Linked DNA regions of Homo sapiens: regions 1, 2, 3, 5, 6 and 7 are each linked to region 4. The links come from fine-mapping of genetic effects on plasma protein levels. Region 4 holds a variant in brackets. A gene starts in each other region. All regions are shown on their forward strands.

Evidence for each region. A credible set is the group of variants that fine-mapping cannot tell apart. PIP is the chance, under the fine-mapping model, that this variant and not a neighbour inherited with it causes the effect. The UK Biobank Pharma Proteomics Project read protein levels with antibody pairs (Olink). The fine-mapping took linkage between variants from a reference panel, not from the people measured, so its PIPs are less certain.
Region 1: LRTM2 starts here. The variant in region 4 is the best candidate, but not a certain one, in a credible set for the plasma level of the LRTM2 protein (UK Biobank, PIP 0.54).
Region 2: KLK11 starts here. The variant in region 4 is the best candidate, but not a certain one, in a credible set for the plasma level of the KLK11 protein (UK Biobank, PIP 0.77).
Region 3: it holds the start of CTRL, and the variant in region 4 is the best candidate, but not a certain one, in a credible set for the plasma level of the CTRL protein (UK Biobank, PIP 0.63).
Region 5: it holds the start of CD14, and the variant in region 4 is the best candidate, but not a certain one, in a credible set for the plasma level of the CD14 protein (UK Biobank, PIP 0.88).
Region 6: IL18R1 starts here. The variant in region 4 is the best candidate, but not a certain one, in a credible set for the plasma level of the IL18R1 protein (UK Biobank, PIP 0.86).
Region 7: CD200 starts here. The variant in region 4 is the best candidate, but not a certain one, in a credible set for the plasma level of the CD200 protein (UK Biobank, PIP 0.87).

Annotation. Positions count from the first base shown.
Region 1 is chr12:1,818,910-1,823,001 of GRCh38, forward strand. LRTM2 (leucine rich repeat transmembrane protein 2) reads left to right here and starts at 1,656. Exons shown (of 5, transcript NM_001039029.3): 1 at 1,656-1,905. All of the region lies in intron 26 of CACNA2D4 (calcium voltage-gated channel auxiliary subunit alpha2delta 4), which reads right to left. RefSeq lists an enhancer at 1,226-1,972.
Region 2 is chr19:51,025,954-51,030,029 of GRCh38, forward strand. It overlaps KLK11 (kallikrein related peptidase 11), which reads right to left and starts at 663. Exons shown (of 6, transcript NM_001136032.3): 1 at 585-663. It overlaps KLK12 (kallikrein related peptidase 12), which reads right to left. Exons shown (of 6, transcript NM_001370125.1): 6 at 3,141-3,504. The coding sequence ends at 3,349. RefSeq lists enhancers at 1-300, 301-858, 1,418-1,974 and a silencer at 4,007-4,076.
Region 3 is chr16:67,930,502-67,934,584 of GRCh38, forward strand. CTRL (chymotrypsin like) reads right to left here and starts at 1,361. Exons shown (of 7, transcript NM_001907.3): 1 at 1,300-1,361; 2 at 597-700; 3 at 419-498; 4 at 225-306; 5 at 1-87. The coding sequence starts at 1,351. PSMB10 (proteasome 20S subunit beta 10) reads right to left here. Exons shown (of 8, transcript NM_002801.4): 8 at 4,005-4,083. The coding sequence ends at 4,059. RefSeq lists enhancers at 1-335, 336-852.
Region 4 is chr10:17,803,413-17,807,499 of GRCh38, forward strand. No RefSeq gene overlaps it. Among named protein-coding and RNA genes, the nearest start is that of MRC1, 3.9 kb to the right of the region's middle. The variant G/C (reference allele first, on the strand shown) is at 2,781.
Region 5 is chr5:140,632,502-140,636,591 of GRCh38, forward strand. CD14 (CD14 molecule) reads right to left here and starts at 674. Exons shown (of 2, transcript NM_000591.4): 1 at 568-674; 2 at 1-479. The coding sequence starts at 570. It also overlaps a transcript of TMCO6 not described here. RefSeq lists an enhancer at 1-318.
Region 6 is chr2:102,353,555-102,357,554 of GRCh38, forward strand. It overlaps IL18R1 (interleukin 18 receptor 1), which reads left to right and starts at 2,242. Exons shown (of 11, transcript NM_003855.5): 1 at 2,242-2,846. RefSeq lists an enhancer at 2,011-2,512 and silencers at 2,107-2,216, 2,237-2,296.
Region 7 is chr3:112,332,903-112,336,902 of GRCh38, forward strand. It overlaps CD200 (CD200 molecule), which reads left to right and starts at 254. Exons shown (of 6, transcript NM_005944.7): 1 at 254-322. The coding sequence starts at 311. RefSeq lists enhancers at 1-878, 879-1,835, 2,332-3,091.

The sequences.
Region 1 (4,092 bases), not on the chromosome of region 4:
TGCTGACCTTCCCTCCACTATTGTCCTATGACCCTGCCAAATCCCCCTCTCCGAGAAACACCCAAGAATGATCAATAAATACTAAAAAAATTAAAAAAAAAAAAAAAAGGAAAGGAGATGAAGCAGACCACAGAAAGCTCCTGCACAACATGAGGGTGGCCCAAAGAGAATGCCAGAGATCGGAGGAGGAGCAGGGCCAGTCCTGTGGTGTTCCGGGGAAACGTCACCTTGCAGGGGGCGTTTAAGGAAGGGGGAAGCCACCCATGGGCAGGAGAGCATTTCAGGCCCAGGGAAGAACACGCTTTCATGGAGATGGAGAAGCAGGAAGTATGTTTATGGGGAGGTGGGAGCCTCTTTTGCTTGACAGTGGGATGTGTGGGAGGCACCAGCATGAGAGGTCAGAGGCGGGACTCCCCAGAGGTAAAAGACACTGCAGCTCAAGCCTTGTGCTGCCCGGGGACCCGGCAGAACGGACAGAAGGGAGTGAGCAGGAGCATCCTTCTAGGGGCATCCTGAGTCCAGGGGGTTCTTCTACACCCACCCCAGTCCTGGCTGTGAACCCCTCCAGCAAAGCAGGCAAAATGGAAGAGGGACATAGGACACGGTGATATATCGCTAGCACGGTGCTTCATCTGTCTACAGGCAGTGGACGCAAAGGAAGGGGGATTTAGGGTTCGTGCTCCAGGCTGGTGGGGCCCTGGCTCCCCTCTAGCTTGGTCCCTGACTCACTTGGCCTTCAGATCAGCCACTTCCCATCTCTTAGGATATCAATTTTTCTGACTTGCTTTGTCCTGATTGGTTAAGAAAGAGGCCTCCAAGTTCTTGAATGACAGTCTCTTCCCTTCGCATGCCTGACCCATCACAGATAAGAGCAAGGAGCCCTGAGAAGCCAAGCTCGTCCCTGGCACTGAGAACGGTCTGCAGGCTGCTGCTGCAGGCTGCCCTGTGCCCAAACTCCCAGCCTGCCAACTCTGGCATTCTGCTTCCCTAAGTAGTCCTGGCGTCGGGTGGTCAGACCCTGAGGCTCAGTGACCTCTGCATGACCATGTGATCCCTGGCTTTGTGGGGGCTCAGGGCCCTTTCCTGTAGGGTCATCTGGCACATGGACATGCCTGTGTACCCTTCTTTCGTATGACCGAGAGAAGGGTTCGGTTTTTCCTTCTCTCAGGCAGGATGGGAGACTCTGCCTCGCATGTCTCTAAAACAGGAGAAAGACCAGCTTCCCAGGGGGGCCTCCATCGGAACAGAAGTCAGCCGCTTGCTCTGTGTCTGCGCCTGTCCCTCTTTCCCCAGATGGAGGGGAAGAGAGGAGAGAGGCACAGAAGACAGGTGCAGCCGGGGGGGTGAGGGAGAGCCTGGAGGCGCAGGATGGAAGATGGAGGTGGTGGTGAAACCGCTTTCCTCCTCCCTGTGGTCGGCAGCGATTCATCCACAGGCGCCTTTTTCCACTGAAATGTGAGCGTGGCCAGGGTGAGCGCTGCCCTCGCGGCCGGCCGTGGTGCCTCTGGTGTGCGCCTGTGTGTGCTGCTGCCGCTGTCATCACAGATGCACCCCAGCTGTCACTCCCCGCTCCACTCTGGCTCGCTGCTCGCGCACACGCGTGCGCTCTCCTCCCTCGCCCCTTTCTTCCCTCTCTCCTCTCTCTCTCTCCCTCCATCCCTCTCTTTCCTTCTCAGTTTGTGACTGACCCAGCAGCCCCGTCCCCCGTCTGCCACAAGCAGTCCACCTCCTGGTGCTGTGTGCTGCGTGCCAGCCGCTGCTCCCGCTGAGTGGAGACTCTGGCACCAGTGCCCACTGCGCTCTGCCTGCCGGTGGTGTCTGGATTTCTATAGGAATCCCAGGAGGGTCTTACTGGAGGGTTGAGAGCCACCTGATTGAAGGCGTTTGCAGTCAGAGTAAAGACGGGTGAGTACCGAGTGGCTGGTAGGAAGGAATGGAGGGTTGGTGGGGACAGGGGGTGGTCGGGGCATGGGAAGTGGGCACCGGCCATCTCTGCCCTGCAGGAATAGCTGCAGTTGCTTCCTACCTGCAGGCAATTGCTGGGGCCGAAGAAGCTGCTCGGGCTCAGGCACCTGAGCATCCCAAAGGTGCACGACACTGGGAACTCTGAGCCCACAGTGCTGGGGACAAGAGCTGTGGATTCTGCTGGGAAGTGGGGAGGAGGGCAGCGCTGGCGCCAGATGACAGTCCCGGGTGGCATAGAAACCGGTCCCTGCAGCATGGGAGAAGCAGCCAAGAGCCTTGTGCTGTCGTTGTGCCCGGCTCTGCACAGACAGCCCCAAGAAACTCGGGGGTCATGGGAAGCGGTTGGGATGGCAGTCAGGTGCTGGGGACAGGGCCAGGTCAGAGGAAGGCTTGGGGTGGAGGGTGGCAGGGAGGAGGTCCTGGATGTCAGAGGCATGGGCACAGACCCAGGTCCTGGGCCTCCCTATAGCTTGCCTGCAGGTGGCTGTCCTTGGACAAGGGTGTGGAGGAACCCTCCCCCAGATGAGCATGGGCCCACTCAGCTGTGCATGAAGCCTCCCTGGTGAGGGTGAGGCTGGGAGTGGGCAGGAGAGAGAAGTATCGCAGCCCTTCCCTGCTAGCCCAAGGGCAAGACAGGAGAACCAGGCCCGCGAGAACCTGCTGGGGTGTCCCGCAGCTGTGCACCCAGCCGTCCATCTGCAAATGGGTCAGGGAGCCTTAGTGGGGGCTGGACACTGAGCTTGGGTGGGGGGTACACAGCGGGGCCAGGCCTGCCTGGCTTCTTGACCCACACAGGGGGCATGGACACCCTGAGTAGAGCGGGACAGTTGCTCTCAATCCCCCAGACCCATTTGGACAGTGCTGGAGAGAGGAGCAGCCTGACCAGGAGTCGGAAGTTCACATTCCTGCACCTCCCTGCAGGTCTGGGGCTGGGTTCCAGTTGGCGGCCCTGTCTCTCCCCCACCCCCAAGCTGTCCACATTTCTGGGGGGTGTTGGCACCCGGCTGTCAGGGCTACTTGGGCAGTGTCTCTTTGTGACTCAGATGACACCCCTGCAGCTTAGATAACTGCCTCAGGTGGGGGCGGGGAGGGAGCCGAGCACGTGGAGCTGAGGCGGGGGAAGTCCAGCTGGTAGGGAAACCCGACAGCAGCTTCCGAGCTGCCAAGAAGAGCCCAGCTTTTCCCACCCCCACCTCCCCACCGGCAGAAAGAAAGTCTCAGCACTGCCAAAAGAGGGAGACCAGGAAAGCCAGGCCCGCGGGGAGGGGTAAGGAGAGAGGCTGCTTAAGCAGCCGATCTGGTGTCTTTGGGGTTTGACAGAAGCTTGTCTGGGCCCACGAGGAGCAAACTCTGCTCCCGTTTCCCAGGCACCAGAGCCCAGGGGCCGCCTCTGGGCTGCTATGGCCTCAGTGGGCAGTGTAGGAAGGAGGAGGGGATGGCATGTATGTGATGGTTGGGGGTGTCTGGGAGTTCTGGGGGTGGGCAGAGGAGAAAGGAGCCAGCATAGAGGCTGTCTGCCCCTCTGGTCTTCCTCCTTTTTCCCCCAGCCAAGCCTCCTGTGCCCTGCCTGGGAATACCACCCTGAGCCCAGCCCCAGGGACACCACCCTGAGCCCGGCCCCAGGGCCCAGTGGACACCTTAGCCTCCTTCATGTCAGGGACCAGCTCCCATGAGGGGCCACTCAGGAGGCTTCTCTGTTCTGCTTCCCAGAGGGTCTGTTTGAGATTGAGAATATTTGACAAGGAAACGGGGGTGCAGGAGGCTGGGGGTGAGGATGGGGCATGTGTTTTAAAATGAACCAGGAGGGTATATGGCTGTTCCAAGTACAAATATAGAGATTTTTAAAACCTGGTTCCTTGCTGCCTGGGCAGTGTGTGTGATGGGGGTGATGGGCAGCTGTCCTAGAGGGCCTGGGTGCCCAGACAGGCAGCGGTAGGCGGAGCCCAGCCTAGACGGCTGTGGCAGCCTCCCCTGCGTCCTGGCCACATGGAATCTCGGGCCGTCTTTGGCCCGGGGCTCTGGCTGGCCACTCTCCGGGCTCCCTCTCAGCCTTCCTGGGGTTGGTGGAAGGGCACGGCCCCTGCAGGCCCAGGGTGTGGGCCCAGTCGTGGCTCTGCTTCTCTCTGG
Region 2 (4,076 bases), not on the chromosome of region 4:
GTTCGGCCCTGTTCAAGTCAGCCATGGGACCTCCCCGGCACATGTCAGAGGATGTTTTCCTTCTTGCCTTGAGAGCTGGCCAGGCCCCAGCAGCTTGGGGTGGAAGGACAAGGGGAACCAGACACCGTTCCGTAGCCACCCCTTTTTCATTGTCTTCGCAGCAGAGCGATATGGAGCCTTTGAGGTCTGCTGGAGGGGAGTAGGGGGCTCAGCCCCAGACAATGTCTGGGACCCCCATCACCCGGCTTGCTGAAGCCCTGTCCGCCAAACCCCTGCCCTTTTGAAGGACAGCCAAGCAAAGCTGGGCGGGGCTGGTCGAGGGGAGGGCCAGTGCCCTCCGCTGCCCTGGCCAGCGGGGGTGGGAGCAGAGGGCCAGCTCAGCAGCTGAAGCCATGGAGATTAGAGGTAACTGAGGCTGCGGACAGCCATCGGAGGTGAGAGGTGTAGAGAGAGGCCAGGAACCCCCACCCAAGCAGAGAAGGACAGAGCAGAGGGAGAAATGGGTGCCCGAGTGGGACAGGTGTCCTTGGGGAGGGCTGACACCTGGACGGGGAGGGGCAGCTTCCCTTTCCTCCTGGACTCACAGGCTCTGGGGCTGGGGCTCTGGGGGCCCAGTGGCGGCGGAGACGGCAGTGGCGGCAGCTACAGCAGGTAGGCTGGGTTGGAGCGCCAGGTGCCAGGCACCAGGCAGGCGGGCTGGCAGGGGGGCGGCCCTGGGCGGGCCCAGGATGACTGGCCTCCAAGCCCTGCCTTAATGCCCCGGGGCGGGGTGTGTGTGAGGGCCCTCCCCGGAGGCCTCTGAGGCACTGGCTGCCTGCCTGTGCCACCTCTCCAAGCCCCTCTTCTCCCTGTGTCTCAGCCTCCCTCTGTCTGTCTGTCTGTCTGCAGCCTTCCTTTCCCTGCCCTGAGTCTCTGAATCTGTGTCTCGTTCTATGTGTCATTCCCTGTCATTCAGTAATTCTGACTTTGTGTGATTTTTCTCTTTCTGTCCCTATGTGTCTGTCTGCCTTTCTCTGTCCTCGTCCCTGTCTCCATCTCCACTCTTCTCTCTCTGTCTGGCTCTGTGTGGCCCTTTCTCTAATTCCTTCTATCTTTGTGTCTCTCAGTCAGTCTCTCTGACTGCATCTCTGGCAATTTGTCTTGAAATCCCTCTTCTTCCATCTAATCTCCGTCTCTCTTTTTCCTCCCGTCCCAGCCACTCCCTCTCCACAGCCCCAGCCCAGGTGGGCCCCTGGCCTCCCCTAGGCCGCTCCCTTCTCCTTTGCAAGGAGAGGGGGGGTGTGCTGGGATGTCACACAGGTGGGGCTGCTGCCAGGCACAGGGGCAGGACCGGAGGGTGGGGGAGGCAGGTCAGGGCCTGTGGAAGCCGAGTCCAGGAAAGGGAACAGAGCCCTTGGCTGTGCTCCACCCCAGGGCTCCTCTGGGGCCTCGCTCCTCTGCTGACCCTTCCCCTGCCCGCTTCTCCCTGCCGCCCAGGCAGCCCGAGTCCAGCTGTTCACTTACTGGCTGCTGTGAGACCTCTGCCCGATGACTTCCAGTCCCGCAGCCACCTCAACCTCTGCATCTGCGGAACCCGAGCGCAGATTCCTGCTTCTCCCAGCTTGTTTGTTTTCAGTTAGGTCCCTTCCCTTGGCTTTCCTCCCCTCTCTCCCCTGACCAGGTGTGGAGCAAGGCAGGGGAGGGCCTAGGTTCTGACAGCAGCCAGCCCTGGCCTCAAACCTAGGTGCTTCCTCTTCCTACTACTATGACTACCCTTATGACGTGGGGACAAGGGACTCCACCCCTGCAAGGCTCAGTTTCTTCATCTGAGAGATGGGGGTGACAGACCTGCTTGCAGGGGAGGTTGGGATCAGGCTTCCAGGAGGGTCCACTTGGAAAGAGCAGACTGCGGGGGGGCTCAGCAAATGTGCCTCCGCTGGTATGATCACCCCTCACTCCCTCCCTCCTCCAGTTTCCCTTCAGTGCATTTGGGGAGATGGTCTCTCCTCACCTCTTGAGTCCCAGTGGAGACAGAATCCAAGGGGTGGGCAGGAGGATTAAAGACGTAGGCTGAGCTCTCCTGCTTTCCAAGCCTGCACTCCACCCTTCGTCTTATTAGAACAAAGCCACGTCCCACATTAAAGATACAATGTATGCTTCATTACAAGAAAGTAAACTGCAGTTGGCTAGTGGAAAGAATGCTACGTTTTATGGACATTGGATTAAATGGTCATAAATGTTGACTTTGCAGCTTTCATCTGGTATTTTGGAGCTAACAATTTTCTTTTTCTTTTTCGGGTCTTTTGTGGACTCTTGAAAAGCTTATAAGCTCTGGGCACTATTTCTATTATGCCAGATGAAGAAACATGTGTCTTATTTATATTGCTGGGTTTTTGTTTTTGAGACAAGGTCTCACTTTATTGCCCAGGCTGGAGTGCAGTGGCATGATCTCGGCTCTTTGCAGCCTCCACCTCCCCGGCTCGGGTGATCCTCCCACCTCAGCTTCCCAAGTAGCTGGGACTACAGGCACGCACCACCACACCCAGCTAATTTTTTGTGTTTTTGTAGTGACAAGATTTCACTGTGTTGCCAGGCTGATCTCGAAATCTGAGCTCAAGCCATCCTCCCACCTCGGCCTCCCAAAGTGCTGGGATTACAGGCGTGGGCCACTGCACCCGGCCTATATTATTAAAAGTAACTTTTTCTACTCCATTTCTGAGTAACTACTCAGGGAAGACCCTCATCCTATTTGAGCACTGGGTTTTTTGTTTGTTTGTTTTTGAGATGGAGTCTCGCTCTGTCGCCCAGGCTGGAGTGTAATGGTTCAATCTCGGCTCGCTGCAGCCTCTGCCTCACGGGTTCATGCTATTCTCCTGTCTCAGCCTCCTGAGTAGCTGGGATTACAGGCATGCGCCACCATGCCTGGCTAATTTTTGCATTTTTAGTAGAGTTGGGGTTTCACTATGTTGACCAGGCTGGTCCCGAGTTCCTGACCTCAGGTGATCCACCTGCCTCAGCTTCCCAAAGTGATGGGATTACAGGTGTGAGCCACTGTGCCTGGCCTTATTTGAGCTCTGTTTCTACTCCTATGAGATAGGGAAACTGCTGAGTCCTTCTTCCAGTCTCAACCAGCATGAGGACTTCAAATGGACAGACATGGCCCCTCCTTCATTTATATTTATTCCAGACTATTGCACACTTCTCTCACCCCGCTCGTGGGTCTTAGAAGGGCTGGCAGGAGTTAAAGTTCCAAGAAGTTCCCAGGCCAACAAGAGTGGAGCTAGGGGAAGTGATGGAGGAGATATTGGTGCTCTGAGGGCCAGAGGGGTACCCAAGTTAAGGGGTGGGGGTGGAGGTGGAGGAAACAGGTCAGTTGTTCCTCATGATCATCCGGATCCAGTCCACATACTTGCAAATATAGGTGTAGACTCCAGGGATGCCATCTTGTCCACAGGGCCCCACAGACCCCCAGGACACCAGACCTTGAAGGACTCCCCCACACACCAGGGGGCCCCCAGAATCACCCTGGAAGGGAAGAGAAGTACTGTCTGAACAAGGGAGACATCTTATTTCTGTTTTCCTCCCCAACCCTTCAACCCAGTCCTGGGCCTTGGGGAGGGCTCCAAGTCTGGTCATTAGACAAAAGAGTATAATCACTTTCCCGGAGGACAATGGCAATGGCTAACCAAAAGAGAAGAACCACTGTCTCTAGGGGCCAATCCCAGGGAAGAAGGGTGGAACTCCATAAAGGACAGAGGTTCTCTCAAGGACAATGGCTGGGGCCCTGACCAATGAGGAGAGAGAGCACAGTCATTAATGACCAATCTCAGGGGAGGCTGTCAAGACAACATAAAGAGTCGAGCATTCTCTCAAGGACAATGGCTGGGGCCCTGACCAATGAGGAGAGAGAACACTATTATCAATGACCAATCCCAGGGGAGGAGGGTGGGACTCCATAAAGGATAGAGGTTCTCTCAAGGACAATGCCTGGGGTTCTGACCAATGAGGGGAGAGAGTGCCATCAAAAATGACCAATCCCAGGGAAGGTGGGCAGGACTCCATCAAAAGCACAGAGTTCTCTCAAGGACAATGGCTGG
Region 3 (4,083 bases), not on the chromosome of region 4:
TGTTGTGTACTGGGCTGGCGAGGCGAGCTTCAGCAGCGTCACGTCATTGTTCATGGTGGTAGAGTTCCAGCTAGGGTGTGTAATGGCCTGTGGGGTCAGAAACAGTCCATGTTCTGATGGGTGCTGAGCAGGGTAGGCCAGGGCATGTCCTGAATTCCTCGTTCCCAGCACCCACCCACCTGCACTGCCCACTTTTCCTCCGTGTCTGCAGCCCAGGCACTCACCCGAGAGACGGACAGAACCTGCAAGGGCTCTGCGTTTGATGATCGGTCATACTCGCCCAGGACAACAAAATGGCGGCCAGGGCTGCAAGGGGGTGGGATTAGGCAGCTGCAGGGAGGCCAGCGCGAGAGGGGGACAGCCAGGGGAGGAGGCAGGAAGAGGCGAGGGGCGGGGCAGGTGGAATGCAGGCACTCACCTGACATTGCAGTGGGCAGCAGTGACCACCCAGGACTGGCTGATGAGAGAACCACCGCAGAAGTGGAAGCCGCTGCTGTCCTGTGGTCAGGGCTCAGAGGTCAGAGTGGGGGTGGGCTGCTGAGGCTGCCCCTAGGCATGACGTACCCAGGACCCTGCCCACCCCTCTGGTGGTGTACCTGCAGGGACACCTGCCAGGGCCAGGAGCCCAACACTGCATTCTCCCCGTTGACAATCCTCTGGCTGAAGCTCAGTGCCGGTTTGATGGCAGGAATGCCGCAGCCTGGCCATTGGGCTAATGAGGACCTGCTTCCCATGCCTCAGCCCATCTTTCCCCACCTCCTTTTGGGTGCCCCAGGCTGTGCACCCCAGAGAGGTCTGTCGAGAGGGTACAGCACTACCCCTTCCCCAACAGGGTACATGCAAGCACCTTCGGGCCCCACAGCTATCTTGGTTATCCCTATCCACCCAGTCCCCCAGCCCTGCTGTTCTCCTACATCTGTCTCCAGCCTAGTCCCCGCTGTTCCCCATCTCTACCCCTGGTCTCTCTGCCCCCTCCCGACCTGAACAGTTCATACCCTTCATGCAGCCAGAAGGTTCTTTCTAAAAGACATGGACAGGTCTTCCTGTCTCAGCTTCCTAAACCCTCCCGGGCTCCAGGGCCTGGCTCAATCTCTGGTCCTATTTGTGAGACCACCCCACCTCTTGCCCCCTCCCAGCCCTGCAGGCCTGTTCCCTGCTCCACTGCCCTGGCATATCCTGTTTCTTTTGCCCACTCTGTCCACCTTCGTCCCTTCCAGCCAGCCTAGCTCCTTCCCTGGGCTGTTGCTGGGAGCTGAGTTGCTCCCAGGGCTGAATCAGGGCTGGTCCTGGCCCACTCACCCCAGGAGGAGCCGAGGAGAACCAGGCTTAGGGTCAGGCTGAGCAGCAACATCGTGGCAGATGTGAGGTTGGGAGCTGGGTCTGGCTTTATGGGTCTTCTCGTCCTTGAGCTAAAGCTCCAGGCCTGAGGCCAGGCCAGCTGTGTAGACTCAGCCCCCTCCCACGCTCCAGGCAAGACAGGCCCTTTAGGCCAAGGTCCCCTGACCGAGACCTAGACTTATCAGACAGAGCCCAGGTGTGAGACTCACCTCTGCCACCTCCCAAAGCCTGGCCTCTAATTGGCTCCCAGAACCACCTCCCATTCCAAATGTTGAGCCCTCGGTACTGAGGACAGATGGTTAAATTAGGTCTATAGTGACAACCTGGTGGCTGGGATCACAGGAGTCACCCAGGGCTAACAAAGGCACCAGGCTTTCAGAGAAGGCCGCTCAGCGTCCAGGGTGTTCTGACTGGTGGATGGAATGCTCACTGCGGTCAACTTTGCTGTGAAGGGCCAGGGGCTGTGAGGTTCTGGCAGGCTGGGAGTCCTAACACATCATCGCAGTGGTTCCTCGTCCATTTGGAACAGGAGTCACAGGTCTGCTCAGAGATGGTGACTCTCCCACCAGCACGTGGTTGAGTTGTACACAAACTCGCATTTGTCTGGCGCTGAAGCCTCCGCTCTTAACAATGAGATGATACTTATGAAGGGCCTGGCATTTAGGAGGGCAAAGTGTGAGCTCTTGGTGCCTGGCCGACCGTGGACTGAGGCTGCAGGTGGAGAGTGACAGACATCAAATCTCTGCCACCCTCTTTAGGCCTTGGGGCTCCCATGGGCAAGCCCCTGGTGTCTGTAGCCCATTTGTTACTGAGCTGCAGACCAAGCTTGAAGGGAGAAGACACCCTGTGTGCAAAGTTCCAACAGGTGCATTGGCTGGCGGCCTTCTGGGAGTGTGAGGGCTTTAACTGATTCAAGAACAGATCAGGGCTGGGTGTGGTGGCTCACACCTGTAATCCCAAAACTTTGGGAGGCAGACGTAGGAGGCTTGATTCCAGGAGTTCGAGACCAGCCTGAGCAACATCATGAAACCCTGTCTCTACAAAAAAAATTTTTTTAAATTAAGAAATGAGCTGGGTATGATGGTACACACCTGTAGTCCCAGCAACTCAGAAGGCTGAGGCAGGAGGGATCACTTGAGCCCTTAAGTTCAAGGCTGCAGTGAGCCATGAGTGCACCACTGCATTCCGGCCTGGGCGATGGAGCTAGACCCCATCTCAAAGAAACAGCATCAGCCAAAAAATGAGATGAATTGGCTGGGCACGGTGGCTCACGCCTGTAATCCCAGCACTTTGGGAGGCCGACGCGGGCGGATCATGAGGTCAGGAGATCAAGACCATCCTGGCTAACAGGTTCAGTAGAAACCTCGTCTCTACTAAAAATACAAAAAAAAAAAAAATTAGCCGGGCGTGGTGGCGGGCACCTGTAGTCCCAGCTACTCGGGAGGCTGAGGCAGGAGAATGGCGTGAACCTGGGAGGCGGAGCTTCCAGTGAGCTGAGATTGCGCCACTGCACTCCAGAGCCTGGGTGACAGAGCGAGACTCCGTCTCAAAAAAAAAAAAAAAAAAAAGGAGCGATGAATTAATGGATAGAGGGATGAATAGATGATAAAACAAATATAACAAAATATTTGCACTCCAGAGCCTGGGTGACAGAGCGAGACGCCGTCTCAAAAAAAAAAAAAAAAAAAAAAAAAGGAGCGATGAATTAATGGATAGAGGGATGAATAGATGATAAAACAAATATAACAAAATACTGTCAGGTCTGTGGTGACCTGACAGTATAAGGGTATTCAATATACAACTCTTTCTACTTTTCTGTTACATTTACAAATGTTCATTAATAGAATGTTGGGGTGCAGGGAGCACACTCAGCGGCCTGGGGATGTGCAGCCCGGCATAGACCCTCCCTGGGCCCTGGGTAGACTCTCCCTGACATTTCTGAAGCTCCAGCGGAGTTCAGCCGTTCTCGCTGAGGACAGGATGCTCTTGCTGGCACCCAGCAGCCAGGCCTGAGACTCAGCAGGGGCCCAGCAAAGGTTTGTTGGAGAAACGTGTCATCTCTCCCCATGTGAGTCCTGTGACCCTTATTAGCCTGGAAAACTTGGAGTCACAAGCCCAGCATGTGCAGACAGAAGACGAGCTTCACGTGAGCAGTGCAGGCATGCCTCGTCATCTAAGGGGTGTCACAGGTAAAGATGTTGCGAGGTTGAGGAGTGCTTGGTGAGAACTTGCCTTGGAGTCAGGGAGCGGCTCCTCTTGTCAGCACTTTAGCCCTCAGTGGGGCCTGTGGGGGCCTGATTGAAAGGTATGAGCTTTGTCCTGGGCCACTGAGGAGCCATGGAAAGTCTCTAGGAGGGGGTAGTACATGGGGTATTTCATAATTTACAAGTCTCCAGTGGACTAGAGGGCAAGAGCAAGACAGTGGAGTGGTGGGGGAGCCTTCAAGTGTGGAGTCAGAAGGAAGGTTTGGGTGGAGACCAAGCCTGCAATGCTGGCCAGGGCTGGGGTTCTGGAGTTGTAGGTGCCTGAGGTTATGGGTGAAGGGCATCTCTTAGGCCAGACACTAGAGCTATGGTAGGTAATGGCCCCTGCAGGGACGCCTTAGCTACAGAGCCCTGCTGGCTGCCTGCCCACCCCATTCCACTCAAGAATGACACAGCCATCTGTTTAACTGTATTTTCTGGGTTTATTCCCCCTTGTTCCAAGCTCTAAGCCTCAGCTTACTCCACCTCCATAGCCTGCACA
Region 4 (4,087 bases):
TTTGGTAAAGGATACATAACACAATTATTATTGTAGTCATTTCAACTGTACAATTCAATGGCTCTAAACATATTCACCATGTTGTTTAACTATCACCACTCTGTATTTCCAGAACTTTTCATCATCCAACATCCAATGGGCTCTGTGCCCATTAAACAATAACTCTCCATTCTCCTCCATCCTCCACCTCCCACCCCTTAGTAAACTCTCTTCTTCCTATGTCTCTGAATTTACCTATTCTATATACCTCACATAAGTGGAATCACATAATATTTGTCCGTTTATGTTTGGCTTATTTCACTTAGCAAAATGTTGAAAGGTTGTACATATAGCAGGTATCAGGATTCCTTTTTACGGCTCTATAATATCCCACTGTATGTTCATACCACATTTGTTTATCTGCTAACAGACACCTGAGTTGCTTCTACTTTTTGGCTATCATAAGTAAAACTTCTTTGAACATTGTTGTACAAATATGTGTTTGAGTCCCTAATTTCAGTTCTTCTGGGTATATACCTAGAAGTAGAATTGCTGGATCGTATGATAATTATAGTGTAACTTTGTGAGGCATTGCCAAGCTGTTTTCCGCAGTGGCTACACCATTTTACATTCCCGCCAGCAATGCCCGAGGGTTCCAATTTCTCATATTCTCACCATCACTTGTTATTTTCTGTTTTTTTAAAGTAATAATTCTTTTGGGTGTGAAATTCTATTTCATTGTAGTTTTGATTTACATTTCCCTAATGACTAATGATGTTGAGCATCTTTACATGTGCTTAGCTTATTGGCCACTTGTATATCTTCTTTGGAGAATTATCTGTTCAGGTCCACCGACCATTTTGTATTTGGTTTTGTTGTGGTTATTGAGTTGTAGTTGTTAATATATTCTGGATATTCATCCCTTAATCAGATATGTGATTTACAGATATTTTCTATTTTGTGCTGTCTTTTCACTTTCTAGATAGTGTACTTTGGTGGACACAGTTTTTAACTGTGATAAAGGCCTTTTTATCTACTTTTTTATTGCTTGTGTTTTTGGTATCCAATCCAAGAAATCATTGTCAAATCCAATGTTGTGAAGATTTTATTTCCTGACGTTTTCTTCTAAGAGTTTTATAGTTTTTAGCTCTTATGTTTAGGCATTTGATCCACTTTGGGTTAATTTTTGTATTTAATGTAAGGTAAGAGTCCAATTTCATTCTCTTTCCTGTGGATGGCCAGTTTTCCCAGCACAAATGCTGTTCTTTCCTCATTGAATGCTTTTGGCACCTTGTTGGAAATCAACTGCCCACATAGGTTTATTTCTGGCCTCTCTATTGTATTCCATTGGCCTATATGGCTATCCTTATGCCTGTACCACACTGTTTAGATTACTGTCATTTTGTAGTATGATTTGAAATCAGGAAGTGTGAATCGTTCAACTTCATTCTTTTTCAAAATTGTTTTGGCTGTGCAGACTCCCATGAAATTCCATATGAACTTTAGGATGGGGTTTTTCATTTCTGCAAAAAAAAAAAATCATTGGGATTTTGATAGGGATTGCATGAATCTATAGATTATATTGGATAATATTGACATCTTAACAATATCAAGTCTTCCATTTCATGAACACAGGGTATCTTTTCATTTATTTAGGTCTTTTTCTTTCAGCAACCATTTGTAGTTTTCAGTGGACAAGTCTTTTGTCTACGTAGTTAAATTTATTCCTAAGTATTTTGTTCTTTTTGATTCTATTGCAAATGGAATTTTCTTAATTTTATTTTCAGATTGTTCATTACAAGTGTATCAAAATTCAACTGATTTTTGTGTTTTGATTTTGTGTCCTGCAACTTTGTTAAATTTGTTAGTGCTACAGTTTGTGTGTGTGGTGTGTATGTGTGTGTGTGTGGCGTGTGTATGTATGTGTGTGTGGTGTGTGTGTGTGGTGTGTATGTGTCTATTGTGTATGTGTATGTGGTATTTGTGTGTGGTGTGTGTGTGTGTGTGTGTGTGTAAGCTTTAGGACTTCCTACATTTAAAATCAGGCCATCTGTGTACAGAGATAATTTCACTTCTTCCTTTTTAATTTGGATGCTTTTATTTATTTTTTTCTTTCCTACATGCTCTTATTAGAACTTCCAGTACTAAGTTGAAGAGAAGTGATGAAAGCAAATAAAAGCACCAATCAGAACACACAGTCCTGACATTTGGAGGGCTAAATCCTTGTTGCCCGGCCTGGCCTCACCTAGCTGCACTGGGCGTGTGGGCTGCTTCCCCCTTCACAGCTGCCTGACACAGCCATAACCACAGGGAGAAGCTGAAATTCGCTGAAATGTACCAGCCTCTTTATCAAGCTCTCCCTTGGATGCTCCAAGTTTCTGACTAGACTAGTTCCCAAATACAGATGGTCCTTGACTTAGGATTGTTAGACATAATGATTTACCCACTTTATGATGATGTGAAATAGAAATGGTGCATTCAGTAGAAAATGTATTTCGAATACCCATACACCCATTCTGCTTCTCACTTTTAGTACCATATCCAATAAATTACGAGATACTCAACACTGTATTATAAAATAGGTTTTGTTAGATGATTTTGAAATAGAAGAGTTCCCTTATGACCCTCGCAGGGGGTGCGACAGGAATGAGGCTTGCTCCTTTGGTGCCCTGCTGCTCAAACCCCTAGGGGGGAGCATGCAGCATGCAGATGGGCAGGTGCAGAGGCTGTGGGGAGTGCTTTTGGGCTCCACCCCACGGCAGCATCTAGGACTCCTGAAGCCCAAGTGGGCGTGTGTTACA[G/C]TGTGCTCTTTCAGCTATACCATCTGCAGACAGCTTGTGTTAGTCAGCTCAATAGACCCTCTGCCTTATCACAAGGACAGGGAGGCAGTGTGACAGCCTGAGTTCTTGCCCAGTGTACTGGAAGAATCAGATCACATGTGGGCTGGAGGGTTGAGTGCAAGGTTTTATTGAGTGGTGTAGGTGGCTCTCAGCGAGATGGATGGGGAACTGGAAGTGGGGAGTGGAGTGGGAAGGTGGTCTTCCCCTGGAGCCAGGCTGCCTAACCCCCCAGACTATTCTCCAACCACTGCTGGCCAAACTCCCCTTGGTGTCCAGATGTCCTTCTTCTCTCTTTCTCTGCTGCGCCACCCCACTGCTCTCCACTGCTCTATTCCTTCACTCTTCTCAATGTTTAGCGCTTGTGTCTATGCCCATTAAGGTCTCAGGTTTTTATGGGCACAGGATGCGGGGTGTGGTGAATCATAGTGGTCTTGGAAATGTAACATTTGCGCATGAAAACAGGAGTGCCTGTTCCCACTTAGGTCCGTGGGCACAGGTCCGAGGGTGGAGCCCTCGCCAGGGATCCTGCCCTTCTCTACCTAGCACTTCTCTGCCTCCTGTCCCTATCAATTTTGCCCAGTTGGAAGCTAATGTAAGTGTTCTCAACACGTTTAAGGTAGGCTACGCTGAGCCGTGATGTTTGGTAGGTCAGGTGTATTAAGTGCATTTTTGACTTAGCATATTTCAACTCACATTGGGTTTAACAGGGCCTAATTTGATCATGAGTAGAGGAGCACCTGCAGTTACTTCAGTCAGTTCCTGTCCATTTGATGGCTGCTTAGATGGAGGGATGAATTCCTGGAGTTTCCCACACCACCATCTTCTGTGACATCCCTTCCCCAAGATTTGGATTTATTTTTTGCCCCAGTGGCCTCTTGTAGCCTGATAAATCTTTGTTTCAACGAGGTCAAGGTCATGGGGTAAATTCTTTGTGGGGTGGTTGGCTGCATTTTGTTTAAACTTCACAGATTTTAGTACTGATCCTAATTTTTAATTTTACTAATGTGATATACACACTTATGTAATTAAAAAACAAACCCTGGGCCAGGTATGGTGGCACACGTCTGTAATCCCAGCACTTTCAGAGGCCAAGGCGGGCGGATCACTTGAGGTCAGGGGTTTGAGACCAGCCTGGCCAACATGGTGAAACCCCGTCTATACTAAAAATGCAAAAAATAGCTGGGCATCATGGCACGCGCCTGTAATCCCAGCCACTTGGGAGGCTGAGGTAGGAGAATCGCTTGAACCCGGGAGGTGGAGGTTGCAGT
Region 5 (4,090 bases), not on the chromosome of region 4:
AGCCAAGAACGCCCTGTCGCCCACGACACGTTGCGTAGGCGCAAGCTGGAAAGTGCAAGTCCTGTGGCTTCCAGAGGCAGCGGAGGCATGGTGCCGGTTATCTTTAGGTCCTCGAGCGTCAGTTCCTTGAGGCGGGAGTACGCTAGCACACGCAGGGCGCCTACCAGTAGCTGAGCAGGAACCTGTGCGGCTCCCACTGTGAGCCGCCGCACGCGGAGAGCCTTGACCGTGTCAGCATACTGCCGCGGGTCGGCGTCCGCATCGACGCGCTTTAGAAACGGCTCTAGGTTGAGACCGCCGGCATGGATCTCCACCTCTACTGCAGACACACACTGGAAGGCTTCGGACCAGTCGGGCTGAGGTTCGGAGAAGTTGCAGACGCAGCGGAAATCTTCATCGTCCAGCTCACAAGGTTCTGGCGTGGTCGCAGAGACGTGCACCAGCGGCAGCAGCAGCAGCAACAAGCAGGACGCGCGCTCCTGGGGAGAGAGCAGAGGTCTAGGAGGCCCCATCCAACCCCTGTGGCTCCCGAGTGGCACGCGTTCGACCCCAAGACCCTACACTCACCATGGTCGATAAGTCTTCCGAACCTCTGAGCTCCGGACAGGCTCTGGAAGTGCTTTAGCTTCTTTCCTACACAGCGGCACCCGCCGGCTTCCAGGCTTCACACTTGTGAACTCTTCGGCTGCCTCTGACAGTTTATGTAATCCTGGGATGTCATTCAGTTCCCTCCTCTGTGAACCCTGATCACCTCCCCACCTCTCTTCCTCCGAGCCAGCCCCCTTCCTTTCCTGGAAATATTGCAATGAAGGATGTTTCAGGGAGGGGGACCGTAACAGGAAGGATTCTGCAGGGCATCTAGGGTTCTGTGTCTCCTGGCAGTGTCCTGATGACTCAGGCGCCCCAGGCGGTGAATGCCCTGTTGACTCGGGAGCCTAAGCCTTCTCTGGTGGGTGTGGGAAAAGGATGATCCTCAGTGCCTTAGGCCAGTACCATACTCTGCACTATCCAACCCCCCAATCCCCCTACCTTATATCCCAGAGAATCTACTTGATTCATTTCTTTGACTTCTTCCTTGTCTTGGTTTATGTTGATCTCCTGCCACCAAATCCAAGTCCCTGAATATCCTCAGATATTTAACTGCATGTTTTGTGGAAGAGATTGTGAACCTCATCTGTTGGCACCAAGGGGGGTAGAATTAGGTTCAAGAAAAGGAAGTTGGTCTAAAGAAAAATTCCCCCTTCCTTTTTTTTTCCTTGCTCCTTTGATTAAGTAATAACTTTCTTTCTTTTTTTTTTTTTTTTTTGAGATAGAGTCTTGCTCTGTTGCTCAGGCTGGAGTAGAGTGCCATGATCTCGGCTCACTGCAACCTCCGCCTCCTGGGTTCAAGCAATTCTCTGCCTCAGCCTCCCGAGTAGCTGGGATTACAAGTGCCCACCACCACACCCAGCTAATTTTTGTATTTTTTAGTAGAGACAGGTTTTCATCATCTTGGCCAGGCTGGTCTTGAACTCCTGACCTTGTGATCCACCCGCCTCGGCCTCCCAAAGTGCTGGGATTACAGGCGTGAGCCACTGTGCCTGGCAGTACTAACTTTCTTAAAAGTGGATGTATTTAACAGAGACACATTGGCCAAGTCTCTGGGTCACTTACACTATCCATTTTCTGTCCTGAAATTGTGAAGCAAGGTATTTTGAATCAGTTTTCCCACTTGCACGTTGCTCTCTCCTGCCCTCCCCTCAGTACAATCTCTGTGCCCTAGGAAGGAAGGGATGGGACTATGTTGAATGAGGATTAATTAGTAACTCACCAGTTTCGCAAAAAACAGACAAAAACAGAAAACAAAACAAAATGAAAAAAACAGCAAACAAAACAAAACAAAAAAACAACAAATGTCCCAGAGAATAAGGAGCTACGCATTTACAACAGCCCTCACAGGTCCACATCCCTAGACCTCTGGGGAAAGAACTATATGAAAGTCTTTTTTTTTTTTTTTTTTTTTGAGACTGAGTTTGGCTCTGTTGCCCAGGCTGGAGTGCAGTGGCGTGATCTTGGCTCACTGCAACCTCCGCCTCCCAAGTTCAAGCAATTCTCTTGCCTCAGATTCCTGAGTAGCTGGGATTACAGGAGCCCACCACCATGCCCGGCTAATTTTTGTAGTTTTAGTAGAGACAGAGTTTCACTATGTTGACCAGGCACTCCTGACCTCAGGTGATCCGCCCGCCTTGGCCTCTCAAAGTGCTGGGATTACAGGCGAGAGCCACCACACCCGGCCTGAAAGTCTTTTTTACTTTTATTTATTTATTTGAGACGGAGTTTTGTTCTTGTTGCCCAGGCTGGGCGCGATCTCAGCTCACTGCAATCTCCGCCTCCCAGGTTCCAGCAATTCTCCTGCCTCAGCTTCCCGAGCGGCTGGGATTACAGGCATGTGCCACTACACCCGGCTAATTTTGTATTTTTAGTAGAGATGGGGTTTCTCCATGTTGGTCAGGCTGGTCTCGAACTCCCGACCTCAGGTGATTCACCTGCCTCGGCCTCCCAAAGTGCTGGGATTACAGGCATGAGCCACCGTGCCCGGCAGAAAGTCTTTTTTAAATTCCCACTTCCTCTTTAATTGAGAAAGAAGTAGCTGCAGATTTGTCCCCAATCCAAACAAGAAGGCTCATCACTGCCCCCTGCGGGTCCTGTTGGGCATACCCCAATGCACTGGGCCATGCCCTGGTGCCATGCCAGGCCTCTGTGATATCCCTGAGGACCAAGATATGATTATATCTGACTCAAAGTCAGATAGCCAGTCTTGGAATCCCAGCTTTACGACTGAGGTTATGAGACTTGGGCCTCCCTTCTGTAAAATGGAGATGATAGTATTACCTGTTTGTGAGTAAAGTCTTTGGCACAGAAACACATCTTTTTAGTGTGGTCTTGATGACTAGTCTTCTTTCTCAGAGTCTCTGCTTTCAGAGAACTCAGGCCACTGAAGTCTGACACCTCATCATCTTAGGGGAGGCACTCTGGGTGGGGAGTTCCAAGTTAAGAGGGGCAGTGATGGTTCTGCAAAGATCTCCAACTCACAGCTTGATTCAACAAATGTCTATCATTTGTCTACCGAGTACTAGGGTTGGTAGAAAGCCCTGGGACACAGACATGACAAAGACAAGTCCCTGAAGTGCTCCAGGAGGTGGGTAGAGCAAACATGAACCCAGAACTTCCGTCCATAGTGCAGAGGGCTCTTAAAAGAAGAGAAACCAAAGGCTTGTGTTGTTGGGGGAGAGGGGTGGAGGGGAGGAACATGGTCTGGAGAAAGGAACAGCCAGCCCTGTACAAGACAGGACATGGGGCTGGTTCTTACAGGGTTAACAGTGTTGCTAGACAGGTAGATACAGAAAGGCAATTTGGGCAGCTGTAGCTGTCTGAGCAGACACTGGGCAGAATATAGCTTTTGGCTGGGAACTTTTTTCATCTTCCCCACCTGGAGCACATGTGGGTTTTGTTGTTGTTGTTATTGTTGTTGTTTTAGATGGAGTTTCACTCTTGTTGCCCAGGCTGGAGTGCAATGATGCAATCTTGGCTCATCGCAACCTCCACCTCCTGGGTTCAAGCGAGTCTCCTGCCTCAGTCTCCTGAGTAGCTGGGATTACAAGCACGTGCCACCACACCTGGTTAATTTTGCATTTTTAGTAGAGACGGGGTTTCACCATGTTGGTCATGCTGGTCTCGAACTCCTGACCTCAGGTGATCCACCTGCCTCCATCTCCCAAAGTGCTGGGATTATAGGCATGAGCCACCTTGCTGGGCCAAGTGTGGGTCTTAGAAGCTAGCCTGGGTTAGGTGCAGTGGCTCATGCCAGTAATTCTAGCACTTTGGGAGGCCAAGCTGAAAGGATCATTTAAGGCTGAGTTCCAGGCTGTGATAAGCCATGATTGCACTACTGCACTGCAGCGTGGGCAACCGAGCAAGACCCTGGCTCAAAAAAAAAAATAAATAAATAAAATAAAAATAAAAAAGTTTTTCTTGGGGAAATAAGAAAATAAATTTTTTTTAATTAAAAAATTAAAAAAAGAAGCCAGACAGTTGCATGAGGAAGGGCTCA
Region 6 (4,000 bases), not on the chromosome of region 4:
TATTTTTTAGTGAAGGCAAAATATTTTGCCTTATTTAAATTGTATTTCTTTTTATATTGTTGATGTGTAGGAATTATTTATGTATTGTGGATGCAAGTTCTTTGCCAGATAGATGTAAAGTGAGAATATTTCCAGGGTTATCTATTCATTTTTAAGTGATGTCTTTGTTTAGTAGACATTTTTAATTTTGGTGATGTCCAATTAATCAATGTGTCCCAAATGGCTATTTTTTTTTGTGTCCTAGCTAAGAATTTTTTTTTTTTGCCTGTCCAAGAGCATGATTTATTTATTTATTTTTTGCCTGTTCAAGGGTCTTCTCTGTATTTTTATGAAATATTTACGGTTCTAGCTTTTATGTTTAGGTCCATGGTCTATTGTGAATTGATACTTGTATATAGAACAAGGCAAGGACAAAGTTCTTTTTTCTGCTGCTGCTTCTTCTGTAGAGGTACCCAGCTGTTCCAGCAATGTTTGTGAAAGACTGTTTTTTCCCCACTGAATTGACATGGTGCTTTGTTAAAAAAATCAATTGACTAGATATGTGTGGATCTATTAGTCTACTTTCTATTTTGTATGTTTGTATGTTTCTGTGAATATCACATTGCCATAATTACTATTGCCTTATTATAAATCCTCAAGTCAGTATAAGTCTCTCAACTTTGTTCATCTTTGTCAAGATTGCCCAGACAGGCCGGGCAGGTGGCTCACCCCTGTAATTTCAACACTTTGGGAGGCTGAAATGGGTGGATCACCTGAGGTCGAGAGTTCAAAACCAGCCTGACCAACACGGAGAAACCCTGTCTCTACTAAAAATACAAAAGTAGCCAGGCGTGATAGTGCATGCCTGTAATCCCAGCTACTCGGGCGGCTGAGGCAGGAGAATCGCTTGAACCCGGGAGGCGGAGGTTGCAGTGAGCCGAGATCGCGTCATTGCACTCACTCCAGCCTGGGCAAGAAGAGCAAAACTCCGTCTCTGTCCGGACAATCCTAGATTATTTGCATTTTCATATGAATTTTAGAAACAGCTTCTTAATTTCTTTGAAAAATTTTCCTGGGATTTGGATTGAATTGTATTAAATATATAGATTCTGTAATATATAGAGTCTAAAAATATACAGTGTGGAGAATAGATGTCTTAAGTCTTCCAATCCGTAAACGTGGTATATCCCTTTATTACTTAGATGTTTCATCTCTGTTAGCAATATTTTGTAGTTTTCACAGGAGATATCTCATATATTATCCAATGAATTTATACTTTGGTATTTTGATTTTTAAATGCTATGGTAAATGGCATTTTTAACAAACTTCACTTTTCAAGTTTCCATCTCTAATATATAGAATTGCTATTGATTTTTATATTCCATGATCTTGATAAACTTAATATTTCCAGTAGTTTTTTTTTTTGTAGATTTCAAAAGTTGGTCTACATATAATTATGCTCTCTGTTAAAACCAGTAGTTTTAATTCTTTCTTCTCAATCTTTATGCTTTCTAATTTTATTTTTATTTCTTCACTTGTTGCAAAGCAGTTGTCCCAGGTGGGAGCCAAAATCCTTATCTCATTACTAATCTTAGGAAAAAGTAAAATGTTTCACTATTATGAGGTCACCTGTAGGTTTCTTATAGATGTTCTTTATCAGATTAAGAAAGATCATTTCTACTCTCGGTTTTCTGATCGTTATTAATTCAGAAAGGGTGTTGAATTTTGCCAGATGCTTTTATTTGCATTTATTGAGATAATTACATATTTTTATTTATTATGTGGTGAATTATCTAAATTGGGTAAAAAGAATTAAAATCATTGTCCAATTGAACATTTTGCCTGTCGGCTATGGGTTTCCCTTTTCCTTTGGTTAAATAACAGTTCTGCCACAAAATAAAAATCTAGAAACACACATTCCCCTTTGGCCTCCTTAAAAAAAATTAAAACTTCAACAATTGCACCCCTCTCTATTACTTCCCTATAGTGAACTCCCATCCTTCTGGGAAAGCAAAAAGCCTGGGGCGCATTTGTGTACTTGAGACGCGGAGCCCCTCTCACCTTCGGCATCCCCCGGGGACCCCTCTTCCACCCTCAGCCCTCCCCTCCTCTTCCTCTGAAGAGCCGGGCGGCCGCTGCGGCCAGCGGTCCTCCCTCCTGGCATCCTCTGCTGTGAACCGCGGCCTGCAGGGTGCTTGCGAGCGGCCCGGGCGCGCCCCCTTCCGGCCCCGCAGGTCACCCGGCTACAGCCCGGGTTTTCCCGGGACCCGCGCCGCGCGGCTGGGCAGGAAGCGCCAGACGCCTGGGGCCCACGCCGTCCGCGGGAAAAGGGCAAGGCGCTGGGTTTTCCAGCAGCAACCTTTGGACCCCGCGATCCAGTAGCTCCGGTAACTCCACGCGGGGCGTCTGGGTGGAGGAGCCGGTCCTGGAGCACGGCTGCGAGGAGCACCCGGACCGGAGGGTCCCCAGACCGGGACCTCCGAGTCAGGGAGGATTCTACGCCAGGGAGCGCCCCAGACTGAGAGCGCCCCAGACCGCTACACTCCCGGACCCGGAGCTTCGCCCGACCGCGGGCAGTGCCCACCTGCAGCCTCCACCGGCCGGGGTTAGCAGCCAGGAGCTGCCAGACGCCTGACATTCTTCTTTCTGTTCCTACTTTTTTTCCTTCTTCTTCTTTTTTTTTTTTTTTGTAGCCCTCTCTGGGTGCCTTATCTCTTTAATCACACCTCTCTTTCACTTTCCACGGTAGTCAGGAGGCGGAGATCGCTGCTTCTCACCTACTTTCTGAACTTGGCCTCCGCAGTCGCGACCTGGCGTGAAGGAGGAGCTGCCGCCCCCGCCCCAGCCTCGGGGACGCCTCTCTGAAGGTAAGGGTGGGCTCCGCTGCCACCCGCATCCCCTCCCCACCCCCCAGAGGAAGGGAAGACCACCATCCGGGGAGGGATTCTCAAAACAAGATCAATTAAGAGAGAGAGAGAGATAGTGTGTGTGTGAATACGTGTGAATAATTGATGAGACAGCATCCTGTCTTTCTCTGAAAGTATAGTTTTAGAAATTAAGACATCCCCAATTATTTTCTGGAGAGGTGAGAACGACTGAAATAAATGATAACAATAGTTGTCATTTTTTAAGTGCTTACTGTGTGCCTGACACTGTAGAAAATTTTTAGATATCTTATTTTCACTTAATCCTCCTAAGGGCCACATGAAATAGGAACTATTATTATGCTTTAATAAAAGGGAGGAGGAATTCCGTCATTTACCCAAGAGTATCCAGCTACTAAGTAGTAGATCCCAGATCCACACCTACAGTTTTTCTGATTCCAGAGCCTTTGTCTTTTTTCTGCCCAGCCTTGGGAAGTTAAAATGCCCAGCACCTTGCATCGCAGTTATCAGACAAATTAATGAGGTGTCAATTGCAGCCAGATACAGAGATCCAAGATTATTGTATTCATTTCACTGACTTCCCTTGCTTCATTCTCAAGACCCTTTGCAAATACTGATTTTGTGTCATACACAGTGCTGCTATTGGGAGCACACCTCTCAACCTCAGGGCCTTGGATGGGCTAGGAGGGGTAAATTTGGGGAATTGGGTTTGTGCAGGTTCTGGGGACAGTGTTTTCCCTCTCCCTGCACAAATATACATCCAAAGGCTGAGAACTAAGGCTAAGGCCTAGGAATGTGGATTGAAAAGGCAGGGTCTAAATCCCAGCACTTGGGAGGCTGAGGTGGGCGGATCATGAGGTCAGGAGATCGAGACCATCCTGGCTAACATGGTGAAACCCCGTCTCTACTAAAAATACAGAAAATTAGCCAGGCATGGTGGCATGCATCTGTAATCCCAGCTACTCGGGAGGCTGAGGCAGGAGAATCCCTTGAACCTGGGAGGCAGAGGTTGCAGTGAGCAGAGATTGTGCCACTGCACTCCAGCCTGGGCGACAGAGTGAGACTCTATCTCAAAAAAAAAAAAGAAAAAAAAGAAAAGGCAGGGTCCCTGCCTTCAGGGACCTCACCAGAGAGTG
Region 7 (4,000 bases), not on the chromosome of region 4:
GGAAAATGGAAAAAAAAAAATGATTTTTTTTTTCCAAACACTTTGTCAGTTTCCCCAGCGGTCACCTTTGAAAAGGGAAAAATGTCTGAAAATAGACAAAGCTGAATATAAACATCATTTAATTCCCCCCACACAGACAGCCTCCGCTCCTGTGAGGGCGTGGGGAAAACGGAGTGGGAGAAGGGGGCTAGCGAGGAGGAAGAGGCGGGAGGTGCGGCAGGGGCACAGGTGACGCTCCTCCCGCCTGCCTAGCAGAGCTCCAGGCGCACATCCGCAGTCAGCCACCTCGCGCGCGCCTCCAGGAGCAAGGATGGAGAGGCTGGTGAGCGGGGCCGGGGCTTGGGAAGGAGGGCGCAGGGCAGGCGATGTTGAGCCGGTGGCCCTGGGGCGGGCGGCGAGTGGAAGGCGCGGAGCTTCGGCTCTTGCCACAATCTGGTCCGGGGACTAGATCAGCGGTGTTGATGGCAGCGCTTTTCTCTAAGCGCTTTCTCTTGCTGAGAAACGGATTTTGCCTTCCAAAGGGTGGTTTACAGGCAGCTGCTGGCGTCCAGATTCTCCATTCCAATTGCCTGAAAAAAAGATGCACCAGGCCGGGGCTCCGGGGGCTCTTGATCCGCGCTGACGAAGCTGGCGCATCCTCCGGGCAGGCTCGGCTCGGCTCACTGGCTCCAGCTCCCAAAACTGGGGAGGCACAGCCTATTTTAAACTGCCCCCAAAAGGGAAAGAGAAATGCTGTATTGGTTCCATATTGGCACCAAAAGCTGCGGCGGAGATACAGATTTCCAGGCTCGCTTTCTCCGGGAGAGCTCCTGCGTCTCCTCTTTGTTATGCAGCCCCTTTCTCCCTCCTAGCCCTTGCCTGGGGGAAGCCATGAAGGATCAGTTAAAGCTGAAGCTACACTTGAGAGAGCTGAAATGCTCTGTGATCATAATGCTTTGAAGGGTTAACCCCGGGTATCTAGAGAAACAGACATTTTGTTTATTCGGAACCAGCTTACAAGACAAAAAACGGAGAAGGTTTTCATATATCCCATTGGTATATGAAATCCAAATACAATGGTATTGGTATAAGAATCCAAATACAGTGAATGCCTCAAGATAATTTTTTCATGTATGGTTTGTTGGCAAGACCACATAGCCAATGATTTCACTGTCTTTCTTAACAAAGGAGAATGGTGGTCTGTGAGCTACGGTCTACTGCAAGCTAGATGCTGTTAATCTTCTTTGTAACTATCCTTCTAAAAATGAATTATTACCTCGTTTTACACATAAACAGGCGGAAAGGCTGATATTTCCAAGTCCTTGTGACTACATGTGGGGTAATGTGGATTTGGACATAGAAACTTGCTGAGGAAGAGGCATGAATAGGGGCAATATAGCTACCAGGTGGGCAGCTGTCTGGTAAGACCCAGGTTTTTGTGAACCCTGGACTGCATGGCAAGGGTTATAAGTGGGCTTCTTTGTTTTCAGGACTGTAGTTCCCCCTATATGATTTGATCGATTAATTTTTTTAGCTACCTAACACGTATTGGCATTTACTATAACCTAGGCTCTATACTAAGTGCTTTAATTGCCTAATTCTCATAATAACTATGTGAGATAAGAGCAACATTTATTTAGTGCTTATTTCTACTGGCAGTATTCTAGGAGCTTTATATACTACTTCATTTAGTCTTTTTAACCATTAGATTGGTACTATTACTTTTCCGGAGTCTCAGAGAGGTAAAATGATTTCTTTTGCTCACAAATCTAGTATTTGTTTTAGCCCCGGTCACCTCCCTGTAAACATATAAATACTGTTGTTTTCAGATTGGTCGTATTTTCAGTTATTCTGCACAGACTCGAGGAAAAAAAAAACCTGTAAAATAAAAATACGTATCTATTTAAGAGTAAGGCTTTCCTTCTGATTTCCTTTGCCTCAATCACTGTGTTTTGTTTCTTAACATTGCTGGCTCCCAGTCCACAATATATGGTTTGGTATGTATCTGCTTTCTCTCTTGTCCTAAAACACAGATTTTCTCTATGAGAGCTTGTCCATTCTGCATTCTTCATCATGGCCTCTGGTAGAGCCTGGATTTCCACGTCAGAGAAGCCTAATGGTTTAAAAAATATCACATAGAATTGGAATGCCAGTATCTGTCTCCACAATTGCCTTAGCTGAAAATAAAACAAAATGTGTTGGGTGGGCACTGGCAATGGAGCCTGAGGAAATATTTGGCCTGATTTTTTCTGACTTTCCTAGATAATTAGATAGGATGGAACAGTCTCAGTAATACTGAGAAAATTATCGAGTTATATATTTTTTTTCACTTCAAAACCAAAGCCTTTGTGAGTATAATACCCAGCAGTGGATGGGCAGGGTGAGCAGATCTTTGTAGGCTGTATGTATTCAGGCAGCTGAACCATCTTGGGTTTCTCAAAGAGCAGTGACTATGTTATTAGTCTTAGACCTATGAAGACAGGAAGAGAAGTCACAAGGAAGGGATAGCATGCTTATGGTATGCTTGGGTATCGAATAATAAAATATATCTGCAAAGAATAATTTGTCCTAATGGCACCTTCAGATGATATAATCTTGAATTCTCTGTAGCCTTAGAGATGTAAGGAAAAAGCAACTTACATCACAAAGATCAGTATTACTGTGTACTATGATGCCACTGCATGGGGTCCAGGATGAGAGTCTAAGTGATTGGTTCTCTCTAGCTGAAGACAAGAAGACACTCAGGTATGTGGCAGCACTTGGGATAGGCCACAGGGCGGCGAGACATCATTCCTTCCAGGACATCTATCCTGAAAGATCCATCAGGAATACTGTGATGGAGATAGTGATGGAGACTCCTTGTCTCTGGCAGTTAGAGTGAATGCTGAAGAAGAGCCCTTTTCCAGCAGGCCAGTCTCTAACATGATCTTGGGTCTTCACCCAGACCATGACAGCTCTGGTGCTCAACACACACAACCACCTCCAGGGTACAAGTTGGCCCCAAGAGAGCTGAGACAATATTGGCTCTAATTTTTATCATCTCATTGATCTCAAACCACAGACTCTGACCAGGACAATTGGGGGCCCTCTCCTTACAGCTACACTCCTAGGAAAGACCACCATCAATGATTACCAGGTAATTTTCTACCCCTACCTATGAAGGGACTTGGTTAGTAACTTCTCTTGCTAGAGGAAAAATGAAGCTTATTATATAAGATTAATGTTTGTGAAACACCTGTTATTTGGAATTGGTTTGGTACTTCCTCTTGAAATTTCCCTCATTAAGTTTAGGTCGTGGCTGTTTCATAAGGAAAGAAAAGGGCATGTATTGACTGGAATTAAAATTAACAAATCCATTGAGTAGGAGGATATTAAAATTGAGTGGCTCCCATTGGACAGGAAAAGGAAGAGAAATCCTTGTGGCAGGTAAAGGAGGAGAGATTTAGATCCTTGAGAACTCCATTCCCGACCCGCTGCTCCTGAGCCCACAGGAAGAAGGCCATCACAAGACAATAAAAATCCCAGAGAAATTGAAAGGCAAACAGAAAGACCCAGCTTGGAGTGATAAGGAAAATGAATTCCAGCAGGGAAGTCATTGTATCTAAAAGGAATGGCAAAAATAGGGCTTAGTTAAGGCAAACACCGAGAATGAGGGGATGGGATTCCCACAGGTAGAACACCACCCTTTAGCAATGATCCTGACCCTAAAGCAAGGTCATTTAAGTGATTATGGGCCAATATTCTAGAAATAAGCTTCAAATTATAGTAGCAACAGATGGGGCTAAACAGGAGCCGATAAGAACATACAAACAACTTCAGAAAGGGATGCCCGTGATGGGTTCATTAAGGAAAAAGTGGTCAGGACATCCCGCTAAAGCAACAGGATTCAGTGGATATTGAGGTTCTTGGGGGGCAATGAGACAGGCACCAAGAGACCACTACTTTATGGAAGACTATGATCATACTGCTAAATACCATAAAAGAATAGACAGAGCCAAATAAGAGACTGTTTCTAATGAAA